7 separate regions of the Homo sapiens genome follow, and all the other regions are reported to be linked to region 1. Evidence: microRNA targets listed by miRTarBase, many of them from high-throughput screens and not tested one by one. Region 1 holds a microRNA gene; each other region holds the end of a gene's coding sequence.
What was found. The annotated mature microRNA hsa-miR-519d-3p reads CAAAGUGCCUCCCUUUAGAGUG and lies in region 1 at 1,463-1,484, opposite strand. An mRNA with a match to its seed (bases 2 to 7 or 8) in the 3' UTR can be bound and repressed. Matches are read on the target gene's strand: a 7mer-m8 pairs with bases 2 to 8, a 7mer-A1 pairs with bases 2 to 7 and ends in A, and an 8mer does both.

Region 2: miRTarBase lists OCRL as a target of hsa-miR-519d-3p. Seed matches in the 3' UTR shown: 7mer-m8 at 1,262-1,268 and 7mer-m8 at 1,577-1,583.
Region 3: the mRNA of OLAH is a reported target of hsa-miR-519d-3p. Seed matches in the 3' UTR shown: 7mer-m8 at 3,640-3,646.
Region 4: the mRNA of ZNF597 is a reported target of hsa-miR-519d-3p. Seed matches in the 3' UTR shown: 8mer at 739-746.
Region 5: the mRNA of YIPF4 is a reported target of hsa-miR-519d-3p. Seed matches in the 3' UTR shown: 7mer-m8 at 2,071-2,077, 7mer-m8 at 2,703-2,709, 7mer-m8 at 3,819-3,825 and 7mer-A1 at 4,298-4,304.
Region 6: the mRNA of TLCD3A is a reported target of hsa-miR-519d-3p. Seed matches in the 3' UTR shown: 7mer-m8 at 3,430-3,436.
Region 7: miRTarBase lists SPOPL as a target of hsa-miR-519d-3p. Seed matches in the 3' UTR shown: 7mer-m8 at 1,432-1,438 and 7mer-m8 at 4,204-4,210.

Annotation. Positions count from the first base shown.
Region 1 is chr19:53,710,489-53,714,883 of GRCh38, reverse strand. MIR519D (microRNA 519d) reads right to left here and starts at 1,537; the gene lies at 1,450-1,537. It overlaps MIR524 (microRNA 524), which reads right to left and starts at 3,882; the gene lies at 3,796-3,882. It overlaps MIR517A (microRNA 517a), which reads right to left and starts at 2,616; the gene lies at 2,530-2,616.
Region 2 is chrX:129,589,423-129,593,817 of GRCh38, forward strand. It overlaps OCRL (OCRL inositol polyphosphate-5-phosphatase), which reads left to right. Exons shown (of 24, transcript NM_000276.4): 23 at 423-534; 24 at 724-3,134. The coding sequence ends at 848. Among named protein-coding and RNA genes, the nearest start is that of OCRL, 51 kb to the left of the region's middle.
Region 3 is chr10:15,072,663-15,077,057 of GRCh38, reverse strand. OLAH (oleoyl-ACP hydrolase) reads right to left here. Exons shown (of 8, transcript NM_001039702.3): 8 at 3,205-3,971. The coding sequence ends at 3,829. It overlaps ACBD7 (acyl-CoA binding domain containing 7), which reads left to right. Exons shown (of 4, transcript NM_001039844.3): 4 at 1-1,583. The region is part of intron 2 of ACBD7-DCLRE1CP1 (ACBD7-DCLRE1CP1 readthrough); the gene reads left to right. Among named protein-coding and RNA genes, the nearest start is that of ACBD7, 14 kb to the left of the region's middle.
Region 4 is chr16:3,432,675-3,437,069 of GRCh38, reverse strand. It overlaps ZNF597 (zinc finger protein 597), which reads left to right. Exons shown (of 4, transcript NM_152457.3): 4 at 1-4,395. The coding sequence ends at 646. Among named protein-coding and RNA genes, the nearest start is that of ZNF597, 8.6 kb to the left of the region's middle.
Region 5 is chr2:32,304,977-32,309,371 of GRCh38, forward strand. YIPF4 (Yip1 domain family member 4) reads left to right here. Exons shown (of 6, transcript NM_032312.4): 6 at 513-4,395. The coding sequence ends at 650. Among named protein-coding and RNA genes, the nearest start is that of YIPF4, 29 kb to the left of the region's middle.
Region 6 is chr17:740,788-745,182 of GRCh38, reverse strand. It overlaps TLCD3A (TLC domain containing 3A), which reads right to left. Exons shown (of 5, transcript NM_024792.3): 5 at 2,215-3,882. The coding sequence ends at 3,613. GEMIN4 (gem nuclear organelle associated protein 4) reads left to right here. Exons shown (of 2, transcript NM_015721.3): 2 at 1-762. The coding sequence ends at 317. Among named protein-coding and RNA genes, the nearest start is that of GEMIN4, 9.3 kb to the left of the region's middle.
Region 7 is chr2:138,568,488-138,572,882 of GRCh38, forward strand. SPOPL (speckle type BTB/POZ protein like) reads left to right here. Exons shown (of 11, transcript NM_001001664.3): 11 at 449-4,395. The coding sequence ends at 593. Among named protein-coding and RNA genes, the nearest start is that of LINC02631, 31 kb to the right of the region's middle.

The DNA.
Region 1 (4,395 bases):
CATGCGCCACCGCGCCCGGCCTATTTTTTACTTTCTTGAGACTGAGTCTCACTCTGTTGCCCAGGGTGGAGTGCAGCAGAAGATTTCAGCTCACTGAAAGCTCAGCCTCCTGGCTTCATGTTGGCCAGGCTGGTCTCGAACAACTGATCTCAGGTGATCCTCCTGTCTCAGCCTCACAAAGTGCAGGAATTACAGACAAGAGCCACCATATGCACACTAGTCCCATATTTAAAATTAGGAAAAAAAAAAACAAAACAAAGATGCCCACACCTGAACAGCAAATCGTTTGTTGTTCAAGTACATCTCAAATACATTGTTTATCTAAAATACAAGTTTAACTGGGGTCAGGTATGAACCAAAGAACAGTCCTTACTTTCTTCTTGTCTGTGCATGGGGGGTTAATATTCACATGTGGTCCCATCTACCAAGGACTGGGGAGGGGCAGAGGCAGGAGGATCTAAGCCCACTTCAGCCAGGGCAGCATAGTGAGACCGCCGTCTCATGCATTTATCTCCTGGTCATGCACCCAGATTTCAGCTTCATTTCCCCAATAAACACTGAAGCCCCATGCACTCCACCTCCGTGCTCTTGCTCATCCCATCTGCAGGGACACTGAGGTCCCCTCAACTCCACCTGACCCCACGTGAGGTTCTATACCAGTGCCAGAAAAATTTCCATAAAGTAAAAGGTGCTGATGGCTGTGCCCGGTGGCTCACGCCTGTATTCTCAGCACTTTGGGAGGCCGAGGCCAGCGGCTCACTTGAGGTCAGGGGTTTGAGACTAGCCTGGCCAACATGGTGAAACCCCACCTTTACTAAAAAAAAAAAAAAAAAAAAAAAATCAAAATCAAAAAGTAGCTGGTTGTAGTGGTGGGTGCCTGTAATTCCACCTACTCAGGAGACTGAGGCAGGAGAATGGCTTGAACCTGAGAGGCAGAGGTTGGAGTCAGCCGGGATCATGCCACTGCCCTCCAGGCTGGGTGACAGCAACACTCCATCTCAAAAATGAATGAATGAATAAAAAAGAAAAATACAAATATTAGCCGAGTGTGATGTCAGGCATCTGTAATCCCAGCTACCCAGGAAGCTGAGGCAGGAGAATCACTCGAACCCGGGAGGTGGAGGTTGCATTGAGCCAAGATCGCGCCACTGCACTCCAGTCTGGGTCACAGAGCAAGACTGTATCCCATAAAAGGACCATCTGAGCCCAACAGGCCTATCTTAAAAAGTGCTTCTCTAGTCTCTCCTGGGCAACAGAGACCTTGTCTTAGAAAAAAAAAAAAACACAAAACAAAACACACACACCAAAACAAAAAACAAAAACCTAACAAACAAAAAAACCAACCAAACAAACAAACAAAAAAACAGACTCCCAACATCATCCAAGTCTGATTACAAGCATGGTCTGCAAATGTATTACCAAGATCAGCATCATCTTCAACGTGGCTTTTCCCAAACGGTAACACTCTAAAGGGAGGCACTTTGTTTAAGAGAAAACAAACAGAAAGCGCTTCCCTTTGGAGGGTCACAGCATGGGATCTTCTTGCTCCAGCACTCTGGGTTTTTTGTTGAAATCTTCCTTGACCAGGTTAAAATGGCCACAACAATAAAGATGCATTTATTGGCCCTGTTTGCCTGTTTTCTAGAATCCAGAACATAAACCCCTAAAAGGACCATCTCCAGTTCCTTTCTTCAAAGGCTCTGCAGGTTAGCCTTGTTCATCAAGGGGCAACCCTCCTGAGTTTTGCCTCTAAAGAGAAAAAGCAATGCCTACTACACATACCTTATATTTAACCAAGAGAACTGGGCTGGATTTCTAGAGAACAGCAATGGACTTTGAGCTGAGTGTTCACTTGAGTTCCAGCACAGGGATACATAGTTCCGATGGGAGCATCCAAAATGGAGTCTAAGATGTTGAAGAATATACATTGTCACACACACAAACATCCTCCAGGATAGACCACAGGCTAGTGGATCACCTGAAAGCGGGAGTTCAAGACTAGCCTGGCCAACATGGTGAAACCCGTCTCTACTAAAAACATAAAAATTAGCTGGGTGGGGCAGTAGGTGCCTGTAATCCCAACTACCTGGGAGGCTGAGGCAGAAGCATCACTCGAACCCAGGAGGCGGAGGTTGCAGTGAGCCTAGATCATGCCAGTGCTCTCCAGGATGGGCAGCAAGAGTGCAGGACACGATGGTGGGTGCCTGATGCCTGAATTCCCAACAATTCGGCAGGCTGAGGTGGGAGAATCACTGGAACCCGAGAGGTGGAGTTTCCGGTGAGCAGAGATCCTGCTACTGCACTCCCAACGAAACAAGAGTGTGTCTCAAAAAATCAAAAAATAAAAAGAGGACCACTTAAGCCCAAGAAATCTTGGTGGAAGGTGCTATCCACCCACGCCTGGGCAATAGAAAGCCTGTCTTGGAAAAATTTCAAATCACAAACAGAACCCCGACATCATGCAAGTCTGATGATAAGCACGCTCTGCAAATGTATTACCAAGATCAGCAGCATCTTCAACGTTGCTTGTCTCAAACAGTAACACTCTAAAGGGATGCACGATCTTTTCTTTTATACAACAGACAGTGCTTCCATCTAGAGGGTCACTGCCTGAGATCTTCTTTTTTTTGACACGGAGTCTCACTCTGCCGCCCAGGCTGGATGCGGTGGTGGGATCTCGGCTCATGGCAACTTCTGCCTCCTGGGTTCAAGCGATTCTTCTGCGTCAGCCTCCTGAGTAGCTGGGATTAGAGGCACCCACCACCATGCATATTGCATATATGACTGCATATATGACCTGGTCATGCACCCAAGATGTTGGTTTCATTTCCCCAGTGAAAACTCAAACCCCATGCACTCCACCTCCGTGCTCTTGCTGAGCACATCCCATCTGCAAGGGACACTGAGGTCCCCCTTTGACTCTACCTGACCCCACATGAGGCTTTATAAATCAGTGCCAGAATAATTTCCATGGACTAAAAGGTGTTAATGGCCATGTGTGGTGGCTCACGCCTGTAATCTTAGCACTTTGGGAGGCTGAGGTGGGCAGATCACCTGAGGTCAGGAGTTCGCAACCAGCCTGGCCAACATGGTGAAACCCCGCCTCTGCTGAAAATATAAAAATTAGGCCAGGCGTGGTGGCTCATGCCTGTAATCCCAGCACTTTGGGAGGCAGAGGCCGGTGGCTAACTTGAGGTCAGGGGTTTGAGACCAGCCTGGCAAACATGGTGAAATCCCATCTCTACTAAAAAAAAAACAAAAAACAAAAAACAAAAAGTAGCCAGGTGTGGTGGTGGGCTCCCGTAATTCTAGCTACTCAGGAGGCTGAGGTAGAAGAATTGCTTGAATCCGGGAGGCAGAGGTTGCACTGAGCAGAGATCACGCCTCGGCCCTCCAGCCTGGGTAACAGTGAGACTCCATCTCAAAAACATAAATAAATGAATTTTAAAAAATGAAAATATTATCCAGGTGTGGTGATGGGCACCTGTAATCTCACCTACTTGGGAAGCTGAGGCAGGAGACTCGCTTGAACCTGGGAGGTGGAGGTTGCAGTGAGCCGAGATCACACCACTGCACTTCAGCCTGGGTGATAGAGAGACTCTGTCCGCTAAAAAAACCATTTGAATCCAAAAGACCTAGGTTGGATGTGCCACCGCACTCCAGCCTGGGCAACAGAGATCCTGTCTTAGAATAAAAAAGCAAAACCAAAACAGAACCCCGCCATCGTCCAAGCCTCATGATAAGCATGCTCTACAAATGTATTACCGAGATAAGCATCAACTTCAACGCTGCTTTTCTCAAACCGTAACACTCCAAAGGGAAGCGCCTTCTTTTCCTTTGGACAAGAGAAAGTGCTTCCCTTTGTAGGGTCACAGCATGAGATCTTCTTGCTCCAGAACTCTGGGTTTTTTGTTGGAATTTTCCTTGCCCAGGTTAAAATGGACACAAAAATGAGGATGCATTTATTGGCCCTGTTTGCATGTTTTCTGGAATCCAGAACATAAACCCCTAAAATGACCATCTCCAGTTCCTTGCTACAAAGAATAAGCAGGTTAGCCTTATCCCTAATCCCAGCACTTTGGGAGGCCGAGGTGGGCGGATCACCTTAGTTCAGGAGTTCAAGGCCAGCCTGCCCAATATGGTGAAACCCTGTCTCTACTAAACGTACAAAAAAATTAGCTGGGGTGGTGGTGTGTGCCTGAAAATCCCAGTTACCCGGGAGTTGGGGAAGGAGAATCACTGGAACCCGGGAGACAGAGGCTACAGTAAGCCGAGATTGCGCCACTGTACTGCAGCCTGGGCGACAGAGCAAGACTGTTTCAAAAAAAATAAATAAATAAAAATAAAAAAAATTTAGTGTCAGGGACAAGGAGATTCAACTAAAAAGATACAAAT
Region 2 (4,395 bases), not on the chromosome of region 1:
TTGGACTAGTGAGTATTGAGAGGAGTCCCCATCCATGCTAAGTGACATTGTAAAGAAAACCATTCAAACAAAAAAGAACAGAAAACCATTCAGCTTGGTAGGTGCCGTGGCTACATGCCTACGGAAATGGGAAAAGAACAGATGAACACTGACCTATTGTGAGGCAGGGTGTGCGTATGAATGTGTGATGACCACGTGGCCTGGTCATTGAGTGGACAGGGACCAAACAGCACGGCCACTCTTACTTTGAAGTTATAATTTGGAAGGTATTGTGTTGGCCATGAGGAGATAATAGAAGTTAGACAGATGAAATGGGTCCTGCAAGGGTTGGATTATAGACTACTATTACAGCAGCTGTAAGTTCCTCTTACTTTCATCTTCCACCTGTTTTTCTCACTGCCTGCCCCTATTTTTAAAAACAGGTGATCTCCCAGCTTCCGAGATGCCATAGAAATGTTTTCCGTTACTTGATGGCATTCCTTCGAGAACTCTTAAAATTCTCTGAATACAATAGCGTCAATGCCAACATGATCGGTAAGAGTGCTTCATGCAACACGGGGCGTTTGTTGAGAATACTCTTAGTGCATTGTATCCAGTATATACCTTACTGCATATGCAGGCACATGGCAGTCAATAGTCCTTGTCCCCAGGCCCTCCAGCCCTGAGGTTTTGCTTAGGTTATGTCTGACAGAAGTTTCCGCTTGTCTTTCTCTCGTCTTGTAGCTACTCTCTTCACTAGTCTTCTCCTGAGGCCTCCACCCAACCTTATGGCAAGACAGACTCCAAGTGACCGCCAGCGTGCTATTCAGTTCCTTCTGGGCTTTCTGCTTGGGAGCGAAGAAGACTAAGGCTTTTACTGTTCTCTGATATTCTAGAAGCAGACGATCTCGGGCTCCAAGTATTTCAGAATGATTTAAAAAGTCATGCCACAGGAAGGGTCTATTGCAGAATTTCAAGTTCTGTTTATAGTAAAAAGGAAGAGCGTTTCCTAATCCCTCCTTTACCATATCCTACACAGAAAAATACTTTTAGACTTATATTGCCAAGCCAAAGTTACCATATTTTGGTGTTTTTGTGTTTTCTCTTTATAAGGCAAAAAGATCTGTATTTACACTCCTTCACCTAGGGATGTGTTTGTTGCCCTCCTACCCAATTGTCATGATTGTCCTTAGTACCCTAGGCCTAGATTCTGAGATCTTCCCATTCTAGGCCTACAAGCACTACTTGCTGTAGCTGAGACTTGTCTAGAGTCCTTTGTTTTGCACTTTTGACCCACCCCTTCCTGGATCACTCCTTTGCACTCCACTCCCCTCGTTCTGTCACTTTGAACGAAGTCTGAGTGAGGCTAGTGACTCCTTGGGTGTCCTCAACAGTGAATTCACTGTCTGCGTGCAGTTATTACATGCATTTGTGCATTTCTACTACAATGGCATCTTTATGTCTCTGTAACATTGGCCTTTTCATGGCTCCACACTGGGTGGAACCATATTCTCTTAGATCACATTTAGTAGCATAACTGTAGGGACTATTAGAGATGGCATCTCATCGATGAGAGAGAATCACAATCAGAATGGAAGCACTTTGAGTATCTGAAGAGTGAGAGCATTCATGTTTGACAGGTCCTGCTTCCCACTATCCTTTTCCTGTTATTATTCAAATTTTACACAAGGACTAATCCTGGGTGTCTCTGAGACCCATCTCCTGCCTAGACATCCACCTCCAGAGCAACACTGGCCCCACAGTAAAAGAGGAAGTCTTGTACCTCAGGCAGGCCCATCTAGAGCTATTGCTCCTTCCCACAGCAAAGGTATTGTGGATGACCCTTAGAATCCATTCTCTGGTCTTCTGAAATACCAAGGGCAGATGTCACCTCCTTCCTCAGCAGGACTGACTCTGGGCTCTACAACCAGCTCCTTCACATAAAGGGTTTAGAGACTCCCCTTGGCTCCCAGTCACCATATCCAGTGTTGTGTAAAGAGACTGGCCAACAGGACCAACCAAGCACCTTACCTCTCCCATACAAGATGACCCTCTGAGCTTTTCATTTATTCAAGCTCTGTGGTACAGCCTTTTTTTAAAATAAATTAATCTATATTGGTTGACAAACAAGCCACCAACCACTGACTGCAAAACTGCCTGATGCAGTTGGGTTCCTCCTGGTTTTCTTTTGTTACAACCACCCTTGCCTGTTTACATTAATTGCAAGGAGCATAACGTACAGGCTGTATGTACAATCCTGGGCATTGACTCTGTGACATTTCTAGCATATCCAAGGCACCACCAGTGATTTCTCCTGTTTCTTGGTGGGGGTGGGGGGGAAGGTACGTATTCTGCAATATGGCTAAACCCTTTCCTGATTGAGAGTTAAAGCAATAGGAGTCAAGTTACTGGTGCCACAGATCTGGAGGTATGATAGGTCAGGGGCTAGGTGTTGAACTTAGTTAATGGAAGACTGAGAGCAGAACAGGTTTGTCATCTCCGCAAGGCCAGAAAGTGATCACAAAAAGAGGCAGATGATAGACACTGGGGTAGGGTCATACCACAGGGAAATACCTTTCCTGGGCTTGTTTTCTAGCATATCACTGACCTGGGATCTTTGGGTGATCAAGGGTGTGGTTAGTGGAGGCTCTGTGCTGCACGTATGCAGTATCCTATCTCTTTCTACATCAGATCAAAACACTAAGTTGGTGTACTGCCTCGACCTTTTTTCAGCTCATCCTGGAACATATACAGAGTTGAGAGTTTTAGACAATCTCTAGGTAGAGGAGACAAGATGTAGACCCAGACAGAAGAAATCTGCTTCCCTACCATGGCTATTCCAGCACCCCAACCTGTAATTGCCAAGTCCTCTAAGGTACTAATTTGTAGCTGCTCTGAAGTAAGGATTTCGGATTCAGCTGGTAGGGAAAGACTCTGCACCTGCTGTCTTAGGGAAGAAATGGTTCAAATCCATGTGGTGACATTGCATTAGTCTCCCTTTCACTGTTTTCTTATTCTGTAATTGTTTGTTATATTTCCCAAAAACGTCTTGATCACTAAGCAAAGCTGCTAGTGGGATTCTATATTTCGTGTCATCTTTTTTATTATAATTTATTGCAAATTTTTTTCTGAATAAATATATGTTGTGTGAAAAAGCAAAGTGTGATTTTGGTGAGGAAGCACTCAGAAGGGAGGGCTTATGTGTCACTGGGTTCCATTCGACTTGACTGCAGTCCCCATCAGCTGTGCCTGCACTGTCATCACCTGTCTTACAGGGAAATACCATTTATAAGAATTCTTAGTATATTCACCCTCAGAGATGAGAAGAAACCATGCGTTTTCAGAGGCTAATAAAGGTGTCCTGTACTTTCAGAGGCCAGCCAAGTACCCTTATTTTAACCCTAAGGATTCAGGCAACAAAACAACTCAATTAGAGGAAAGGATGTTGATTCTTAATGCATGTAAATGTCACACTAGGTCAGATCTGTGATCCCTCCGGCCCCAGAAACAAACCCTAAGATACACATCTGGGGAGAACCCAGCTACCCCTGCTCAGTAGTCTCAGTAGTTTAGACGCGCTTCCCCAAAGAGCTTGTTTTCACATAATCCTATTTTGCAGCTTTTGAAAACCAGTTTTGAACTTTTATGACTTCTTGGGGTGATCAAGTCCATAAATTTAGTACTTTTTTGTTGTTCTAATCTGAACTGCCTAACACGTTGGGAGGAAACCGCTGATTTGAGCATGGTGCCAATGCTTCCCTGCCAATCTCCATTATGAATTTGTGGATTCTGATTCCATTCCCTTTGAGACTGAAGAAGCCTCAGCTGGAGGTTTCTTCTCTACTAAGGCCCTCTTCCAATTCCCTCCAACTGTGAGCTTGACCCTGATGAATGTGCTGACTCAGTGTTGTCATAAACAACTTTCAAAGCCCCACCCAAAGCCTTGGCAGGAGAAGGTGTTTCTTTCTGAGAGTGATTTTCCCCCCAGCAGATGGAGACTGACACCAGAAGTTTTTACATAGTAGCAGGCAATGAGAATAGCAGGCAGGTGGTCAGTCTTTCCAGAGGTTAGAGAGGAAATGGCATCCCCAGCTGTGAGGCTTCTGTTATAGGAGACCCATTAGGACCTTTCTGATTGCAGGGCAAGTTGAAGAACTGGCTCTTGGTGTAGCCTCATAATGTAAAAGCCACACATTGCAACAGTGGCATCACTAAATGTTAGGGAGAGAACCTTAGTGGTGACCTAATCCAATCTCATTGTTTGGATAGGGAAAGTCTCAGAGGGGACAATGACTGACCTAAGGTTACTTAGGTTAGTGACACTGCATGGCATAGTGGCATTTGTTTTTTCAAGCAGTTCTACTCTGCTTGCCCATTAATTCCTTTGGTGGCATCTTATCAATTTCCGTGGCTGTA
Region 3 (4,395 bases), not on the chromosome of region 1:
GTAGTTCTATTTTTAGTTCCATGAGAAATTTCCGTGCTGTTTTTCATAGAGGTTGTACTAATTTACATTCCCACCAATAGTGTATAAGCATTCCCTTTTCTCCACATCTGTTGTTTTTTGACTTTTTAGAAAGTCTAGCCCTGGTAATATGTGTACAGATTTGAACAGCTGTTTGTTCTTTTGGCTCATCTGTTCTGTTACAATAAGTTAATGTTACTGGTGAAATAAAAACAGGTTATTAAGAATCAATGGCAAGGCTGAGCGTGGTGGCTCACGCCTCTAATCTCAGCACTTTGGGAGGCCGAGGTAGGTGGATTACTGAGGTCAGAAGTTCGAGACCAGCCTGACCAACATTGCAAAACCCCATCTCTACTAAAAATACAAAAATTAGCCAGCCATTGGTGGTGCACACCTGTAATTCCAGCTACTTGGGAGGCTGAGGCAGGAGAATTGCTTTTACCCAGGAGATGGAGGTTGCAGTGAGCCAAGATCACACCACTGCACTCCAGCCTGGGCGACAAAACAAGACTCCGTCTCAAAAAAAAAAAAAAAAATTACAAGTCTGTCCATAGCAGTTTAAAGAAATTTAAAAAGCCCCCATAGGAATATCTATTTTTCTTTAAATTTTTACATTTAAGACATTTAAGACAAAAAGGCAAACTAAAATGTATCTAGTGATAAACTGTACCACTACTGTACCCCATATGTTCAGTTCTATCTGAGTAAAAATAGAGTCTGGAATATAATATTGGCCCCCTACTCAGTCTTTCTGGATGGTACACAGGCTCTTTGAAAGAAGACAGTCTCATGTTAACAATTCAAAAAATTGTTTGAGATCCCTTAAGATAAATATCCCCCAAAACAGTGTACCTCTATTCCCTGCATAAAAATTTAGATTTGGAATGGTATGACCAGAGGAATAGATCCACTTCATGTTACTACAACAACAAAACTATCTAGGTCTGCTAGATGAATTTCCAGGGAATTATGCTGAGCAGAAAAAGCCAGTCCCCAAATGTGACATGTATAATTCCATTTATATAACATTCTTTTTCTTTTCTTTTTTTTTTTTTTTTTTTTTGTTGAGACAGGCTGTCACTCTGTTACCCAGGCTGGAGCGCAGTGGCACGCTCTCGGCTCACTGCAACCTCTGCCTCCCAGGGTCAAGCAATCCTCCCATCTCAGCCTCCAGAGTAGCTGGGACTACAGGTGCGTGCAACCATGCCCAGCTAATTTTTGTATTTTTCATAGAGACAGGGTTTCACCATGTTGCCCAGGCTGGTCTGGAACTCCTGATCTGAGGTGATCTACCCACCTTGGCCCCCCAAAGTGCTGAGACTATAGGCATGAGCCACCGCGTCCAGCCAGGATTCTTGAAAGGGAACATTTATAGACGCAAAGGATGGAATAGTGGTTGCCAGGGAGGAGGGAGGTGGGTGTGGCTTTAAAAGGGCAGCAGGAGGGATGATCCTGCAGTGATGGAATGTTCTGTCTTGATTGTAGCAACACCAATATGCTGATTGTGATATTATACTATAGTTTTGCATAACAGTTACCATTAAAGGAAATTGGGTAAAAGGCTACACAAATCTCTCTGTATTATTTCTTACAAATAAAAGGGAATCTGCAGTTACCTCAAAAAGTTTACTTTTAAAAATCGAGGTTGATTTCTCATCGGGAAAATTTTGGCAATCAAGATAATTCTCATCTTTCTAAATTTCGCCTAATGATAGACGTCTTCCACGATGATACCAAGGCCTAATTCCTTCAAAGAGAAGACATCATCAATGATAGACTTGGTGTCTTACAGTTGAGGGCTTGAAAACTCCTGAAAGTTGTTCCCATGTGGACTTTACCTCCACCAGGTAGAGATGCAGGGGAAAAAGCTTACCCCCAAAGCCTGGCATTTGTTCCATCATGAAACTTCAGTTTGCAGACTATACTGACTAAACATTTTTCAAATTAATAATCACGAATCCTAATTATTATTATTATTTTTGAGACAGAGTCTCATTCTGTCGCCAAGACTGGAGTGCAGTGGCATGGTCTTGGCTCACTGCAACCTCCACCTCCCGGGTTCAAGTGATTCTCTTGCCTCAGCTTCCCTAGTAGCTGGGATTACAGGCGTCCGCCACCACGCCTGGCTAATTTTTTTGTATTTTTAGTAGAGGTGGGGTTTCGCCATGTTGGCCAGGCTGGTCTTGAACTCCTGACCTCAGCTGATCCGCCCGTCTCAACCTCCCAAAATGCTGGGATTACAGGCGTGAGCCACCATGCCCGGCCTCCCAATTACTTTTATACCAATCTTTCAGTAAGGGAACCCTGGAAATAGTATCAAATTAAAGGATAAAGTACAACACATACTACAACATAATTTGCTTAAGACTATTTGTAGCCTAAACTCAAAGTGCCTCCCCCAAATAGTTAATTTTATATTTTTTGTACTTTGTTTAAAAAGAGTGATAAATTTAGGAAAATACCACCTGTATGCATTTTCCTTAATCTTATTTACTAAGACCTTATGTACTTTTTATTTTTGAGATAGGGTCTCACTCTGTCACTCAGGCTGGAATGCAATGACATGATCCTAGCTCACTGCAACCTTGACCTCCTGGGCTCAAGCGATCTTTCAGCCTCAGCCTTCCAAGTAGCTGGGACTACAGGTGCACGCCACCATGCCTGGTTGATTTTTAAAATCTTTTGTAGAGACAGGGGTCTCCCAAACTCCTGACCTGAAATGATCCTGCTACTCAGCCTCCCAAAGTGCTGGAATTACTGGTGTTGAGCCACTGAGCCTGGCTCCTATTTCTGCTTTTCTTTTTCTCTTGGTTCCTGTTTACTTCCAGCTGTTGTGCTTTCTCCCTAAGTCAAGTTCAAGTTATTGCTGAGTGAGGCTGAGGCAGCCTCTTAGGTGTGAGATTTGTGCTTGGCCACTCCCTTTGTCACAGGCAACACTCTAGATTGGTTGTCCACTGGGGGGACGATCCAGGTCCCAGCCAGACATGCCAGGGTGGCAGAGCCCCCCAGTAAGTGGTGTAGAATAAACTCCTTAGAGGGGTGGGGTATAGGCATTCTGACGACTTGCCTGCACAGGTGACAATAATTATTTTGGGATCTCTTTTAACAAAGCAGTAGGTTACATTTTCTTACTATGTGGGGCTATTCTACATTTGAAAAAATGAGATCAAGCTTTGAGACACGGTATGCCATTGAAACAATCATTTACTTCAAGCATTTCCCCTGTTAATCATCTTCACCATTAAACTAACTGAAGGAAAAAATGGATAATTTACTAATCATGAATTTTGTCGACAAACTTCCCATAAAGGAGAATCAAGTGAGATTTTAATAGGAAGATAAAAGACTCTGCCAGAAGTATTTTTTTTTTTTTTTTTTTTGAGACAGAGTCTGGATCTGTCACCCAGGCTGGAGTGCAGTGGAGCGATCTCGGTTCACTGCAAGCTCCACCTCCCAGGTTCACACCATTCTCCTGCCTCAGCCTCCCGAGTAGCTGGGACTACAGGTGCCCACCACCACGCCCGGCTAATTTTGTGTATTTTTAGTAGAGATGGGGTTTCACGGTGTTAGCCAGGACGGTCTCGATCTCCTGACCTCGTGATCCGCCCGCCTTGGCCTCCCAAAGTGCTGCCAGAAGTATTCTTTACTGGCTTGACCTTTGTCCCCAGATACGTAAATATATTTATGTAACGAATCTCCCTGACAGTAGAAAATGTGTAATTTCCAATCTGAATAAAACTGAGCTATATCTGAATAACTGAGAAGAGTATGATATTACTTTGATTATTTTAAAAGTGAAAGGGAAAATATCTAAAAATTGGATATCGATGATACTTCTAGACACTTGATTATGTAGTTCTTGATTAATTTCTCGTTCGCAGGATCCAGAAGATAAAAGTGACCCCCTGGAAGCTGGTAAATTTTAGCATTTCCACTGGTTACATCTTTCCAGGCTGAAAATAAACAAGATTGTATTCAATAACAACACCAACAGCAACTAAAGATTCACATCAAGACATCATTTCTTTAAGAGCTGACACCCTGAAGTACGGTTACTTTCAAGGCCTTATGTTCTAGGTGATGAAGCAGGAGCATTGCCATCTTGGACAAGCCCCTCATTCTAAAGTTTACCTTAATCAAAAACCACCTAAATCCAAAAGGCATCATCAGCCTAATGGCTAAGGTCACCATAACCATAAACCATAGATAACATCTCCAACCAGAAACGTTCCAAACTCCTCCCTGACCAGAGACATGTTAGCCCCAAGATAACCCCCCTCTGGCCAGGAAGATGACGGCCTCGAGATAACCTTGCTTCCGGCCGCCAGAAAGATGTCTGCCCCAAGAAAGCCTCCCCTCCTCCCAGAGACATTCCAA
Region 4 (4,395 bases), not on the chromosome of region 1:
ACCTTATAAGTGTGCCAAGTGCAGTGCCAGCTTTCGCCAGCACTCTCATCTATCCCGACACATGAATAGCCACGTAAAGGAGAAGCCCTATACATGTAGCATATGTGGTAGAGGTTTTATGTGGCTCCCAGGATTGGCACAGCATCAGAAAAGCCACAGTGCTGAAAACACCTACGAATCTACTAACTGTGATAAACATTTTAATGAGAAACCAAATCTTGCTTTGCCTGAGGAAACATTCGTATCAGGCCCCCAGTACCAGCACACTAAGTGCATGAAGAGCTTCAGGCAGTCCTTATATCCTGCCCTTTCCGAGAAGAGCCACGACGAGGACTCTGAACGCTGCAGCGATGATGGGGACAATTTCTTCTCATTCTCAAAATTCAAGCCCTTACAGTGTCCTGACTGTGACATGACCTTTCCTTGTTTCTCTGAGCTTATTTCCCATCAGAACATTCATACAGAGGAAAGGCCCCATAAGTGCAAAACATGCGAGGAAAGTTTTGCTTTGGACTCAGAACTTGCATGCCACCAGAAGAGCCACATGCTAGCGGAACCTTTTAAATGTACCGTGTGTGGGAAAACTTTCAAGTCGAATTTGCATCTCATTACTCATAAGCGAACTCACATAAAAAACACCACGTAAAGTAAATATAACAAATTGTTATTAGTGATTGGGCTTTTCAGTATCTGTATGGTGGGAAGCAGTTACTGTATATGTCCCAGGCAATGTGCTAAGCACTTTACACACATTCCCATGTAATACTTAATTCTCAGCACAACCGTGATTTAGGCAGTATCATTTCCATTTTATAAGTAGGGATGCAAAATCCGTGTCACTAAACTAGTGAATGAACCCAGGATTTGAACTCAGTTACTGTACAACTGTGAGCCAGAAGAAGATACACAACTTTTGTTTAAATTCAATTTTCATTAAAATGAAGGCTCTTGCTAAAGTTATTTTAATTTTGTTTACGTAGTTTCTGACTTTTAGAAGGAGGAGAATTTATTTATATTTTGCCAGTTCTGCAGACATATCTAGGAAAGTAAATGCTTTTATATGTTTTATACTTTTTTTTGCTATAACTATTTGAATGTAATACTTGTATAAGATTGCTGTTCTACATGTGAATTCCCACAGGCGTTCAGAAGTTTTTTTCTGCCCTGTAAAAGTTCCCAAATGGGTAGACTAGTTTATATTTTGATGGCCATTAGTATCCGGAGTTCTCTGTCATGGTTCTGATGCCAGGGGCACATACTGGCATTTAGGACCCAATTGTTTGCAAGGAGTTTTGGAAGTCTAACTGCAGCCCTTTTCTGGAGGCTGGACTTGACTTGGGGAGGGGGAGAAGTACTTGCTCTTTTCTAAGATTTGCCTCCAAATTGCTACTGAAGCACATTACCTGTCTTACTATGAATAATTGTAATTGTTTCTCAGTGAGCATGCTAGCTACTTTAGATATATTATGTAATTTAATCTTCAGAATCTGTGACAGAGAAAAAAAATCTTTGTTTCATAAACGAGGAAACTGAAGTCCTCAGAGGGTAAAGTCAGTTCTTTGCCCAGCACACAAATCACATTGTGGTGAAACTGACATTAAGCTTGGGTTTCTCTGACTCCAAAGGCCATGCAGTCTGCAAGACTGCGGCATTTGTTGGCATTTGCACCACGTAGTAGCACTGCAGGCAGCCAGGGAAAGGGGAGCTGAGATAGGTGAGGGTGGTCCTCATGGAGGCGATTCTGTGTGCTTGCATCCTGGAACCCCTTCATTCCCTTTGTGCTGTACCCAAAGCCTGACTAACATATACAGTTACAAAGCAGCAGAAGACTCTCCAGGACTTCAGGTTTGAATTCTTGTCCCTCTAATCAGATGAGAGATTTCACACTTGGCAGAGTACAATACTGAAGGTCTTAACTGGGTTTTGGTTTTTTAAAAAACACCCATAACATTTCCTCTCCATCTCCAAAGAAAATGCATATAGAAAATTGTTAGATTTTAACCAAAATACTTGATAATATATAGATCTTTAGATATTGCTATTATAGATAAATACTGGAGCAAAATATTATTAAATGGTATGGTTATTAATGTTAAAGAACCACAGAATGTTGTAAATATAGATTCATATACAATTTCTCATTAAAGTCGATTGTATGCCTATCAGCAAAACAATATTTACATGGGTTTTGATTAGGATGGAAGAATGCTCTCATTCTATTTAAATAGACAGTATAAAAGTACAATATTTGCTAAAATTGAATTGTTGCTGGGAATTTTTGCTGGGAGAAAAGATAAAGGACTCTTGAGGACTAATTATATGGAAGGTAGCAGAAGGTGGTCCTACAGAACAGCAGATTGAGGACTAAATATACAAAAAATGCTGGCTACTCAGCTAAGCTCTTATTACTGAGTAGAGGCAGGAAGATACTGTTCAGGTGAGAGAAAAACTGAAACTAACAAAAACATCCCTAACCCAGAGAGAGTTTCTCTCTCTTTGTCATTCTTGTCTTGTTTCTTGTTTGCAGATCCACAGTTGAGACAATGTGCTGCTCTGTATGTCAAGGTCAGACTTTGGCTGTTTGTTTCTGATGTCTCCACTCTTAGGAGACAGGACACCAGCTTCCAGGTTTCTCTGAGGTGCTTTGAAATGTGTAGAAAGATAGTCTCCAGTTAGATTACTTATTAGGCAACTCTGAGATACCATGACCTTTGTTAAATAACAAGAACACCACCTCCTTGCTCTCCTGCTTCTGCCCTCAGTGGGAGAAACTGGCAGGAGCCTCATCAGCACATATCAGGGGCCCTAAGAGTTCAGTCAAAGATCTAATGAGTCACAGGATGGGGGATGAAATTGGGAAAGGTCTGGATTAGCAGAGTTGCTGCAGAAAGAAGTAGAGGGGAATATCTTAGAAGGCACTTGGACAGAATGGGGGTGATATAAAAGATGTATGCTGTCATTTTTGTTTTGGCTCCTAGAAAATATAGCAGAAAGTGAGAATTTGTGCCATACATCCTGTTCTGCACCTTAATATGGAAGTTTGCCTTTCCACACGAGTCTTCCTTCACAATTAACCTCTAATTTTTTTTTTTGCAGTTTTCTCCAGATTTTGGAAGATTACGACAAACTTCCTAAAAGATTAGAAAAAATAGCCCTTTTCAGAAACATTAACATACGTGTGGGTAGAACTAAAATGGCTTTTTGGTATAATACTGTTAATGATTAGTATGCAGAAAAAAATGAAAACCCCGGAAGTGTCAGTTACTGTGAAAGAGGCATATTTTCAGTTGTGCTTATTGTGCAGTTGTACTTAAATACATTTGCTAGATGTAATTCAAGCTGCTTTACCCCCAGGGAATTGAAGGAAAAGATATATCTGCTGGTGAGCTTCAGGCTTTTTATGATGATGGCATTTCACCCTTCTGTTTACAGTGTCAACTGATGGAGATAAATTCCATAAAATTGTCATTAACTCAGATACTAGCCTTCCATGTTAGGTGCTATTCACAAATACTGGATAAAAGTTAATATGGGAATGAAAAACTAAATGCAAGAGTTTATTGCTATGAATGATTGGTTAACTGCATTTTGCAGCATGGAAATCAACACACTATGAGAGTGAAAACTTTGTGCTGAATAAATTGACTCAGACAAATTTCTCCGTTTTTGTCGTTGATGCAGTGATGAAAATGTATATCCAACAGTTCCTTAACATGATTGCTGGAATAGTTAAACAGTCTTTTAAACAGTCGTCATTGATGAAAACAGCATTTTTCCAATGGAATTCAGATGTCAGCAGTTTACATTTTATAATTTAAGAAATTGTGGAATGTAGTTGTTTTGAATGAGGTCGACTCAGAATAGTTTTATTTAGAGCTTTGTTGCTACAGGTGGTAGTCTATTGACACCTCCTCATTTAACATAGAAAATGACTAACCCAATAATTCAGGGAGTTAAAACTCAAATGACATTTCACAGCAAATGCCATTTTGAGTCTTTGCCTCCTGAGTTTCCATATAATTAAGTGGCAATGTTCTAGTGACTGCAGCATAAGATGTCATACAATCTGAAACTGCAGAGTTTGATCAAAGTAATCTGCAATTTACTGCCTATGTGTACAAAGGGAGACATAGCAGGTTATAGTTTATATGAATAGTCTATTTTGAATGTTCATTAAACTTGTTATCCCTGTGGGATTTTAGTAGGAAAGTGTATTTGCTTTGACCATCTGTTTAACAAAATGATGTTCATTACATTAGAAGTGTATGTATTCATCTGGTTTAGTTTTGTAATTTAGAAGAGCTATTGATCTGATTCAAAGATAACCATTACCCATCTTTCCAAGGCCCATCTAAGTAGTACAGGTGTTTTGTCTTTTAAAATTGACAGTCCTCT
Region 5 (4,395 bases), not on the chromosome of region 1:
AAGACTTAATAAATATTGTATAAAATTTTTACTTAATCGATTTTCTTATTTAGAAGGAAAAGGAAAATTTCCTACTTTGCAGGAATTAGTTTTCTCTCAGTAATTTGGTATAATAATAGTTTTTTCAAAAGTTGCCTAATCATAATCACCAGGGAACTTATTTAAAATACTGATAACTAGATCCTTCCCTTAGAAATTATAGCTCAAAGAAAAAGAAACAATAAGTTATAATTTAACAGAACTAGAGAGTCCCCCAAGTCTTTTTAATAGGCACCCCAAGTGATTCTTATGATTAGACTGGTTTGATAAGACCACATTTACAGAAGTCAAGGAGTAGAGCAAAGATGGACATTCTTAATAAGTTTTTAACATTTGTAACAAGTTTTACTATTTACCAAAATTGGTTGTTGATTTTTTAAAAATATTGTAAACACCATTTTTACTCTATGATATCCAAAAAGTTAATTGACTTGCTAATATGCTGCCTTTTGTCTTTTTTCCTTTTTTTAAAGCTGTTTGGTGTGTTTTGGGCTGCCTACAGTGCTGCTTCATTGTTAGTGGGTGAAGAATTCAAGACCAAAAAGCCTCTTCTGATTTATCCAATCTTTTTATTATACATTTATTTTTTGTCGTTATATACTGGTGTGTGATCCAAGTTATACATGAATAGAAAAAGATGGTGTTAAATTTGTGTGTAGGCTGGGAATTCTTGCTGAAGGAATTGGAGAAAACCTGTTGCTGCAAAATTTTACATGTTCCAGATGGAAAGGGAAGTCTAAGCGCTTTTTAAAACAATTTTTTTTTGTATTTAATTAAGCAATTGCAGTTATCTGGGATTTTTGGGTCAGAATTTTAAATTCTGTTTGATTCTCCATATTCCAGTGAATAAAATACAAAAGCATTGTGTTTTTAAGATTGTGTCGATATTCACCTAAAAACTTGTGCCAAAAGCACCTGGATTGGTAATTATATTTCACTTAAAGGGTAAATTTGACAATATCTTGATAATCAAAAGTGCAATTTTTTTCTTCAAAATGTTTTCTCCAGCATCACAGATCCTGCAGATATATATTTATATTTATACATATATATTTATGAAATAATTCTTACTCACAAAATATATTTCTGATAAACATTAAGATATTAAATCTGATGCACAAACTTTTTAATTTGGCCATTAATCTTTTTTATTTAAAAATTTAAATTTGTTTTTAAAATTGTATATAGTTTTTAAAATCTCACACATGCTTCGATACTTCCTTGTTAAGAATTCTTAATAACTACTAAAACTGATTTTTAATAGTTGCTGATATATATTTGGTTTGTTTGGGTATACTTTTCAAAACCATTTTTGAATGTCCAAACATCTGATTTAAAGTTTCTGTTTATCTTTCTGACCAAAGGAGCAAGAGGTATAATGGATATGGCATTCATTAAAATCTTTACTATGTACAAAAACAGTAATATTTACAGCATCAGTAAATATTTTTAAGTGGTACTTCTAAATCATAAAAGTTGGGGAAAGAGACCTTTAAAATCTTGTGGTGTTGAACAATGTTATATGAAGTAGAAAAAATAAAATACTTCCCAGTTGTGTGTTTTGTTTTACAGCACCATGTCCTGTATTACTTGATATTTTAACAAGTATCAGGTACTCTCTAACAAATGTACAGTTTTTGCTAAGGGAAATATTAAGAAATTTTTATCAGTGAAATATTTGTTGCAAATAATTTCATAGGTTTTTAGATACACCTGTAGTTAATATTACTTTGTAAAGTAGGTAAATCATTTTATTTATGTCCATAAAATATCAAATGTCTGTTAACTATTAGCAAATTATTGTATTATCCTTTCTGGTCTCACCTGGAAGAGTTTCCTGCTGTCCTCAGTATGATAACATGGCGACCTCTTGGTATGTATTTCTTTAGCAAACTTACCCATCAGGAAATATCCAGCACCTCTGAAGCAAACCTACAAATGAGTGTGTTATCAAGCCCAGCCGTCTTCCTTTCCCCTAATCCCAAAAGGAAAGAAAGAAAAACTTATTTTAAGCTGCAGAAAAAGTGTGGAGCACTTTTGAGCTAGAATAATGTAGAAAATTACATGTACTGATTTTTTTAAAAACAGGTGAGAAGCACCAGAGGGACAGGACTTCTAGAAGTTAGAATAATATGAAGTAATCAGGAAATATCTATGCCTACAGAAGCAGCAACCGTAAGATAAACATTTGTTACACTTAAGAAATTGCTGAGGTTAATACTTTGTTATAATGGATTATAATATTTGACATTCATAGTGTTGACCCTGGAATCTTTCACAGAAAGCTTGGGGGTCAGGACCAGGAGGTAGAATTTTACAAGGCAATAAATGAAGGTATTTTAAGATCACCTCTATTAAAAAATGGTTTAATTTTTAAAAACTATCATTGCTTTAAGGTATGAATTTTAAAAATCACTTATATGGATCATGTTTACTCCTAATGATATAAGATAAAATGAGGTATTTTTGTTCCAAAAAGTATTTTAAAATAGCATTTAATCTTGGGAACTATCTTACTTAGGGTTTCTATAAATACAAATTACAATGTTTCGAACTCAACCAGTATCATTTTCGTGTGCTAATGAGCAAAGTAGTTAGAACAGATTGTCAGTTTAAAAACAGGATTTGTAGGCCAGGCACAGTGGCTCACGCCTGTAATCCCAGCACTTTGGGAGGCCAAAGTGGATGAGCAGCTTGAGTCAGGAGTTTGAGACCAGCCTGGCCAACATGGCGAAACCCCGTCTCTACTAAAAATACAAAAATTAGCCGGGCGTGGTGGCAGGCGCCTGTATAATCCCAGCTACTCAGGAGGCTGAGGCAGGGAGAATCGCTTGAACCCTTGGAGGTGGAGGTTGCAGTGAGCCAAGATTGTGCCATTGCACTCCAGCCTGGGTAACAGAGCAAGACTCTCTCAAAAAAAAAAAAAAAAAAAAAAAAAACCATGATTTGTAGATGTGTGCAAGACACAGTACTGCTATGGCTAATAATGGTAAGATGACCCTAATAATGTCCTCTCCTTGAATTTTTATATAATAATATTTTCTGAGTCATAACTAATTTTTTAAATAATGATTTCCAATCTAATTATTAATTAGAATTTTGTTGTTGTTGTTTGAGACAGAGTCACTCTGTCACCCAAGCTGGAGTGCAATGGCACGATCTCGGCTCACTGCAAGCTCTGCCTCCCGGGTTTGCACCATTCTTCTGCCTCAGCCTCACGAGTAGCTGGGACTACAGGCGCCCACCACCATGCCTGGCTAATTTTTTGTATTTTTAGTAGAGATGGGGTTTCACCGTGTTAACCAGGATGGTCTCGATCTCCTGACCTCGTGATCCGCCCGCCTCAGCCTCCCAAAGTGCCGGGATTACAGGTGTCAGCCACCGCACCAGGCCAGTTCATTAGAATTTTTAAAACAGGCTGGGCATGGTGGCTTACGCCTGTAATCCCAGCAGTTTGGGAGGCCGAGGCAGGTGGATCACCTGAGGTTGGGAGTTTGAGACCAGCCTGACCAATGTGGAGAAACCCCATCTCTACTAAGAATACAAAATTAGCCAGGCATGGTGGTGCATACCTGTAATCTCAGCTACTGGGGAAGCTGAGACAGGAGAATTGCTTGAACCCAGGAGGCAGAGGTTGCGGTGAGCTGAGATCGCGCCATTGCACTCCAGCCTGGGCAACAGGAGTGAAACTCCATCTCAAGAAAAACACAAAATACAAAACAAAACAAAACAAAAAAACAGAACTGGGCCGGGCGCGGTGGCTCACGCCTGTAATCCCAGCACTTTGGGAGGCCGAGGCGGGTGGATCACGAGATCAGGAGATCAAGACCATGGTGAAACCCCGTCTCTACTAAAAATACAATAAATTAGCCGGGCATGGTGGCGGGCGCCTGTAGTCCCAGCTACTTGGGAGGCTGAGGCAGGAGAATCGCTTGAACCCGGGAGGCAGAGGTTGCAGTGAGCCAAGATCGTGCCACTGCACTCCAGCCTAGGTGACAGAGTGAGACTCCGTCTCAAAAAAAAAAAAAAAAAAAATCAAAATCTATATAATTAAGCATTGTTTTTTAAAAAGTAGTTTAGGAAGATTTGTAAAGCTTATGAACCATTGTAAAACCTTATTTCTAAGGTCTGTAAGACAGTTTTATATGTAATAATGTGTCCATTTCCAGGAATTCCCCAAATACTCATACAGCCATTGAGCACCCCAATCCAAAATTCAGAATGCTTCAGATAAGAACATTTTTGAGTGCCGATGTGACACTTTAAAGGAAATGTTCATTGGAGCATTTTGCATTTCAGATTTTTGGATTAGGAAAACTCAACCACTGTATTTCTGCACATATTCCAAAATCTGAA
Region 6 (4,395 bases), not on the chromosome of region 1:
TCAGGGCGATACAGGCAGCTGGCCCTTGGGTTCAAGGACCAGAGCAGGACCTGACCCAGGAAGCCCTGTTTGTTTACACCCAGGTGTTCTGCCATGCTCTGCACATCATGGCCATGCTCCACCCGGAGGTCTGTGAGCCACTCTACGTTTTAGCCTTGGAAACCCTCACCTGCTATGAGACTTTGAGCAAGACCAACCCTTCTGTCAGCTCCTTGCTCCAGAGGGCACACGAGCAGCGCTTCTTAAAGTCCATTGCTGAGGGCATCGGCCCTGAAGAACGGCGCCAAACCCTGTTGCAGAAGATGAGCAGCTTCTGACTTGGCGTGGGGAGCTGGGCCCCAACATGGCGGGTCTGCAGAAGATCAGCAGCTTCTTACCTGTGCGGGAGCGAAAAAGCTGGGCTTCAACATGGCAGGTCTGTAGGGGTCAGACCCGAGCAGCCTGGACTTTACAGTTATGTGAAACTGTCCACAAAAAGTCATGGCAATAATGGTGTAAAGAAAATAGTTTCTTGGGTATTTGTAACGTACAAACTATCATAAAAATTCTCCTCTTTCGCATCTCACTTTGTCTCTTCTAAGTCGGCCTCAGCAATAGCCCAGGATTAAATATGCTCTGAAATTGGGTTTAGTGTCTTCAAGATCAAATCCAGCCAGGAGGAACATGTTCATAACTGGACTTTTCCATCCTAGATTTTGGCAAATAAGCCCAAAGTTGAAACCATGTGAGTGGAAAAAGCATTACATGGTACGTATAACCCCCTTCAAGAGTTATTTCGTCTTTTAATGTTTTTTTCTTGAGGTATCTTGGAAAGGACAGCAGCTTGGAAAAGAATCCAGTCCAGCCCTGGCTCTGCCTCTGGCCATGAGACTGCTGTGCCCGAGAGGCCTGCACAATTCTAAAATGAGAGGATTGGAGGACCAAGATAAACTCAGTGGCGAGGGGCTAGGTTAGTGACCTCAAGAAAATGGGTCCCCTCTGAATTGAGGAGTGTGTACAGTCTTTGTTGCTCAGACTAGCCTTGAACCCCTGGACTCAAGTGATCCTCCCACCTCAGCCTCCTGAGTAGCTGGGACAATAAGCACACCCACTTCCCATACAGTCTTAACTCCATCTATTCAGTCACCCCCAAAGGGGCTACTGTGAAGACGAGACCTGGCAAACCCAGCAGAGATGTGCTGAATGGATGGGTCACGTTAGCTTTTGCCTCAGGAGGGGTTGTCAAGATTTGGATGAATGAATGGTTTGGATAAGGGAATGATGTGTGCAGGAACATAAAAAATGAGTTTGGGCCAGGTGCGGTGACTCACACCTGTAATCTCAGCACTTTGGGAGGCCGAGGCGGGAGGATCACTTGAGACCAGCCAACATATGGAAGCCCTGTCTCTACAAAAAAAAAACCACAAAAATTAGCTAGGTGTGGTGACACACAGCTGTAGTCCCAGCTACTCAGGGTTCTAAAGCAGGAGGCTCACTTGATCCTGGGAGGTAGAGGCTGCAGTAAGCTGAGATCAGACCACTGCACTCCAGCCTTGGTGACAGAGTGAGACCCTGTCTAAAACAAAAAAAAAAAAAATTGAGAGTGGGCTAGGCATGGTGGCTCACACCTGTAATAATCCCAGTGCTTTGGGAGGCTGAGGCAGGAGGATCACTTGAGGCCAGGAGTTTGAGACCAGCCTGGGCAACAGAGATAACCTGTCTCTACAAAAAGAAAAAAAAATGAGTTTAAGGTGTCTGAGGTATGAGGAAACTATGAAAATTGGCTGGGGACATGTTTAATGTGTGAGATGAAAGGGGGAAAAAATATGTCCCATCACTCCCTCCATATCCACACCCTCCTTCACAATGGGGCATTACTCAGGTTCTCCTCAGGTAAAGTAGGCTTGGCTCCCTGACCAATAATCGGTCTTCCACTCTCCCAATTCCTAGTAAGATTCACTTATGAAGAGAAGAAACGGTCTCAAGTTACGTGTGACCACTACGCTTGAACTCTGGGAACCTTCAATGTATTACTGAGACCATGAACCACAAAAATAGGTTTGAGTGAGGTGTGAGCTAGACCTTTCTGGAGGCTGAAAGCATTCACACACACACCCCTCTGCTAGTTACATGGACACAGACCTTGAGCCACAGCACACGGCAGCCAGTCGAGCTAGGTCACAGGATGATTCTTACAGGACACTGATATTGATGTATTTCACAAATGAGAATAAGTTGGGAATGTTAGTGCAATTTAATCACCGTAAGGGTGACTTTTAAAGATACACTGATAGTTAAAAAAAAAAGACAATTAAAAAATAGCATTTTGTTTTTTAAATGGCACCCATTAAAGACTCAACAGTCAAAATGAGACAAATCAGTCCTTTAGACGTTCACAGACAATTGAAAGGCACTTTAAAAATCCACTTTTTAAACTACCACTTGAGAACACATGGTAGCACAGTCTTAAATTCATCCTAGTTGATCGGGAATGATGAATGAGTGTTGGCACCAGAAAATCCTGCTTGCAGAAGGGGGCGCAGGTGTCGGTCCACGGGACAGCCACTGGCCAGGCTAGCTGCCGCCTCACTCCGCAGCCTTCTGTGGCTAAATGGCAGGACGGACACACAGGAATGGGCTTTGGACCACAAGCTCTGGCATATCGGGAGGCAAAGCACTCAAGTACTCTGCAGTCTAGATGACACATTTCATGGTTTGGAGGACAGAAGTAGGTTTCCACATCACATGAAAAGGACAGTGTCACAGTGGGGTTACCCAGTAAACAGCTACCAAAGCCATCATTTCACGCTTCCCTGTAGTTTTATGAGCTCGCCCTCTGCATGTGGATATGGGGAAAGCCGGGCATGAAGGGGTGTGTGAAAAAGAACAGCCTCTGTGACTGACTGCAGTAAGCTCACAAGTTTGTCACTGTCAGACTTAGCAAGTCAGCCTGCAAAGGTTGTGCTGATCTCTTGGCCACACTACCTACTCAGGTTCCCATCCATGCCTCCTGCCTGCCCCCACCCCCAGCCCCACCAGTGAGACTTCTGATTGGAAGTCTATAGACATAAGAATTCAACTCTGACCCATGGATGAGAGGATGAGGCAAAGAACCAATGGGTTATCTAGTAAACGATCAATAACTACCTACCCACAATGATTGTCCCAGGCCAATGTCACAAGACGACATTACTTCCAAGAACCAAGTCATCCCTTGCTTCTGCGGGCCCAGTGCCACGGGTACTGTCCTGAGTGGTTTGGAAGGTGGGTAGCCGCTGATACAGGGACAGGCAGATGTGCAGACACTTACCACCCTGGTCCACCGATCCCACCCCATGCTTCCACCTCCCAGAGCTCTTGAGATAAGACCTTAAGAAGGATCCTTGGGCTTGCATTAAAACCACTTTGCTGTCCGTGGAGGTCTGACAGGACCCAATAGTTGTTACTACAAAAGTGCTTTTGCAAATAGGGCAAGTTAGAAGAAGGAGGTAATATGAATATTCTTTAGAAAAACTCAAATCCATCGGCTTATCAATACCCAAAGTCTGAGGCTACCCAGGGCACAATTTGGTCCATGGAATGCTGAGTGGAGGAGGCAGCTGGTGTGAGGCTGCGCCTGACTCCCAGGAGCATTTAGCCATCCTTTTTGGCTTGGGGAGTGTCAAAGAGCCGGACTGCCTTCCTGCACAGCAGACAGAACCAGTAGATCTGAGGAGCTACGAGGAAGGCATTGGCCACGTTGCAGTAGAATGGGATGCTGAAGGGTACTTGGAGCAGGCTTAGTCCCTGCTGGCGGCCATAGGACCAGTACATGAAGGGGAAGAGAAGGATCCGGCAGGAAAGGAAGGTGGCCAGCGTGAGGATTCCATTCACCTTGTACAGAAGGGTGTGCTGCTGCTTTAGCTGCAATAGAAGAGGAAGGAAAAAGGTAAGGTCACCAAGAAGCTGGGCATCAGGGAGCGACGGGCCCAAGTCCCACCACAGTAAATGCCACACAGGTGCAGGTGCTCATCAAGACCTTGGCTGTCAGATTCCCTGGCGCCCAGACGTTTGTCTAGTTTTCTAACACTTGGAGAAGACATTCTTGAACACTATCATATTGAGATGTGCAAATAACCTCATTTTCTCCAATAGTGATTTTGAATTTGACCCAGGCCACCCAGCTGACAGGAGTACAGGAACCGTGGATTAAAGTATGTGTGTAACCAGGGAAAAAATAGAATGAGCTGTATCAAACTATCAAACTTAGATCAAACCTACAATTTCACCCCCACTGGCTGAGATGACCAGCTGACCTTTAAGGCTGTTGAAGGATCTCTCATCCCACTCTCCTGGCACTAGGGATTTCTCCACACCCACCATCTCCGAAGGAAAAGCAGAATCCACTCCCTCCCACACTCTTTCTGCCATTTCATT
Region 7 (4,395 bases), not on the chromosome of region 1:
TAGCAAATCGGTAGTTAACATCATTGAATTTCATAGTTAAAATTGTGAAGAGTGGATGAGATAGAATTAGTAATGCATGTTAAGGGGGGAGAGTAGAGTCCAATATTTGTAACTCAAGAGAAAATCTGCCTTATAAGAGGCATGTAAAAGAAGAGAAAGGGACTCTTGAAAGAGCTGGTACAGAAATTGTAACAATGAGAGTTGAACTATGAAGACCCATGTCACATACTTTAAGGGAGCCGAACTTCCAGAAAAATTTAATAGTTTCAGTTGCCACAGAAGATACCAGTAAGATAAAGATGGTATTTTAATAAAAGCAAATGATTTGAATACATAGGTAAAAAGTGTTCAAATATTTTGAAATTTGCAAGTTTTTAAGAAATTAACAGTGCAATAGTGCATTTTGAAAAGTATTCTTTAGTAAATATCTTTTAATTCTATTTTTCAGCCAAGCAACCGACATAATGGAAACATCAGGGTGGAAGTCCATGATTCAGTCTCACCCTCATTTAGTAGCAGAAGCCTTTCGAGCACTAGCATCTGCACAGTGTCCACAGTTTGGCATTCCACGCAAACGGCTAAAACAGTCCTGAAATCTTCCATGAACAGTTGAAAAATGGAATTGACTTTCACTCCTCCAGGTCCAGAAGGATTCTAATACACAAACCATAAGCAAGAGTTGTTTCTGTTATTTTGTCCACAGAACAGAAGCTGAAAAAGCATATTGCTTGCATTTCAGGTGGATAATTTATGGTTTATTCTTCAGCTTTAAATTAGACTGATTAATTCACTTCAAGGCCTTAAATTATCTTCAATGACTTGTCTTGTTCATATAATACTTTAATTTTTTTTTATTGTGCCTTGTCATTTTGACCAAGGCTATGCAGGATTGCACTAGCTCCATAATGCAGTAATATTGATAACTGAAGATACTAAGTTTCAAAAGGATCTTCCATTATTTTGCAAAAAGAAAAATGAATTTTATAGGGTTTGTCCTATGCTATCTCAAAGTTTAAGTTCTCTTTAAAAGCACTTGTATTGGAGATTACCAGTAATATCTCCAATCTAAGTTCTATAAATATGGGAGAACCCTCTTACCTTCAAGGTAAGTTATGGCAATACACTGCTTCAATTCTAATTTATTTTTCATTTCAGGGGGCAAATATGCAATGAGTTGGCCTAGATTTTTAGTGACATTTATGATGTTTGTCTTGTATGTTAACTGTCCAACAAACTGTGGGTTTATTCTAAGTTTACAATTATTGAGAACTGATTGAGGTTAAGATTTCATGAAGAAAGCATGTATTGTGTGGAAGTAATTTTTTTTTAATTTATACTGACCTACATTTATACGAAGAATTCTGTACATGTTAAAAGTAAGGATGACCAAATGCAAATTTAATGAGTGGGCCAATTAAGAAAGATACATATGCACTTTTACTGTGTAACTTTTGTATGCTGAATGGTACATATATTTTTTTGCTTTTGAGGGAATTAATAAGGTATAATTAATTGTGTCTTAACTTTTCAAAGAAATTTTTAGATGGAGGCAACTGGGATGTTTGTGATAATAGATGAGAAAGACATCCTTGATTGTAGTTAAATTGGTTTGGATTACAGATATTCATTATTGAATTGACTCCTATTTTCTCACACTTTGGAAAAGACACCTGAACAATAAATGAATCCTGGATAGTCTACTCTCCTTCAAACAATTAACTGATACTTGCCTTTGGGAGATGCATACAAAAGGAGAGAACCCTTAGACTATGTCAGGTCACACTAGGAACCTCCCCTCACTCCCCGTTTTTCTTCATTGTGTTTCAGTTACTGTACTAACATTGTGGATGATACTGAAATTCTGCATAATGTGAACAGGATAAACTATTTATAAACTGCTTTTCATGGGCCAGTTCTTTATTATAAATGAATTTTAGCTTTAAATGCATATACACGTTCAGTGTTTGATAGTTGTGTTCTTAAGGGAGGTTTGTTCTGGTGCATTGTCCTGGAGAAGCAGAAGCAGTCAGTGTTGGGGTACCACATCTGACTTACTGTGGTGGTGACCAGTGTGCTTCTTAAGGGCAAGATTTATATTTGACCACAAGGGAAAAAGTGTGTCACTGGAAAAAAACGCATATACCTATGTTTGCAAACATAACTATTCTTCAGATTAAAATTTGTATAATTTGTTTATTTAATGTTTGAATTCAGGACAAAAGAAAAAATGAAGCTTGAGGTGTTTTCAAATAGACCTTATTTTTGCTATCTCTTTGTTAGGTGTTAACTGAAGCAATTCGAATATGTCCAGATTCATTTGGATTCATATTTACATTGAAAAAACTCAACTAAGCATTTGTTATCCACAACAACCTAGAGTTTAAAAAGATCGTATTTTCACCTGTCTTCATTACTTTCTATGTAGTTTCATTCTTTGTCGTGGTAACTTAAATTTGAAATTGGAAGAATCTCTTGGGATAGAAGAAAGATTCTTACCTGGTGATGGAACTTCATACTTCATCCTGTGTAAGAGTATTATGGGAAGTAGAAATTCACTTCCTTAAATCCATCGTAAGATTGAGCCTCAAGTTTGCAATATACAATTTTAAAAATACACATACATACATACATATGTATACATTTCCAGTTTTAAGATTTTGCGAGGGTCTTATAAGAAAACAAAAATTCCCTCAGGCTATAGAATTATGTTGTCATATATCAGAAAAGTACTGATGTATCCATTTATATCCAATGCGCACCACACCGGCACATTGTGATTTAATTCACCGCTTGAATCTATATTTCTAACCACAGTGACTTCAGTAAAAATACCGTATAATGAACATTTCAGCTTCTTCTTACTTACTCGAGAGTTTATTGCAAATCTTAAGGATTTTATTATAAAGATTTTTTTTTTAGTTTGGTAGCACATTTTGTACCAAAAATGTCAAACACTGTGCTGTAAGAATATCCATGTTTGTAGAAATGTCCACTTTTCAGATAATATAATGCCTACCATTATACTAACAGAATCATATGGTAGTTGATTTATTTTTTTATTTATTATGTATATTTTTGGTATTGTGGGTTCTTGAGGCAATGATAAAAACACTTAATGTATTCTGACATGAGTGCTCTAATAGCCTCCTTCTCCTCATTTTTAAACTGCATACATTACTTTCAAAATAGGTATAGATACTCTGTCCCGCCTTTTGAGCTATTAGCCTGTTCCTGTTTCCCTTTGTCACCTAAGCAAGGCTTTTTCTGAGAAGGTAGTGAATGGTTTCAAATGTTGCATACTATAAGAATAATCATTGGGTAACTGTTGTTTAGACCAACACTTAGAAATACTATATTTGTGCCTTTTCATTTTTAATTTTAATGTGTGTTGATATTTGGAGCACAAATAATGAAGGTGCCATAATATGGCTTGCCAATGTTACCTCCTTGAATAGTCATGTGTCATTGTCTTGAATTGGTAATTGGAGAACCTTGCATGAAATATGTGATCGTGTGTGTGTGTGTGTATGCGCGTGTGTGTCTGTGTGTTTGTGTACATACCTGTATTTGCTTGGGGCTTGTGTGTGGTATGTTACAAAGAGTGAATTTCTGGAAATAGAAATCAGTTAAATGTTGAAAGTTCAGGTTAGCAGAAATATTTCATTTAAATATGCTTTACTTTGGAGGACAATTGATTAACAGAGGAAATGATAATTTTCAAAAATGTGATCAATTTACTGCATGATGAAATGTGAAAACAGTGCCTTTTTAGGACATCAATTATAATAAAATTGTTTTAAAATATTAACAAAGATCTCAAAAAGTTGTCATGAACATTATTCATTTATTTTTAAACTGGATCTAAATAAGAGCTTAGATGGCCAAAATTAGAATTAATAATATACCCATTTAAATTTTGTTCATAAATTTAAAATCTTAATCAGAATTCTTTATAAAATGTGGGTCATAGATATGACCCAGTGTTACTAAAATAGAACAGGGATTGTGAAAATCCAGCTCAACATACTTAAGTATACTTGGCTTAGAGCCAAGTATACTTGAAGAGGTGAATTATTCTGACTTGGACATGCATGCTCTTTGATGGATAAAATAAAAATATTCAATTTATTCTTACAAAAGAAGGTGGGTGGGTGAGTGGGTTCGTTTTAGTGTTCTCAGATTATAAAGACAGCTATAAAGACAGCACTTTCCGCACACAAAGTGTATTTTACAAACCTTTTTTATACAAATTAATGAGCTCTACTTTATTTAAGTGTTCATGGAATGATGTAAATTTTAGGTCCAGTTGAACAAATATTGAGTGCCTATCATATGCAAGACTAACTCCTTACTAGGAATGAAATCACACAGTGTCTTCTGTTTGCAGTATGTGAA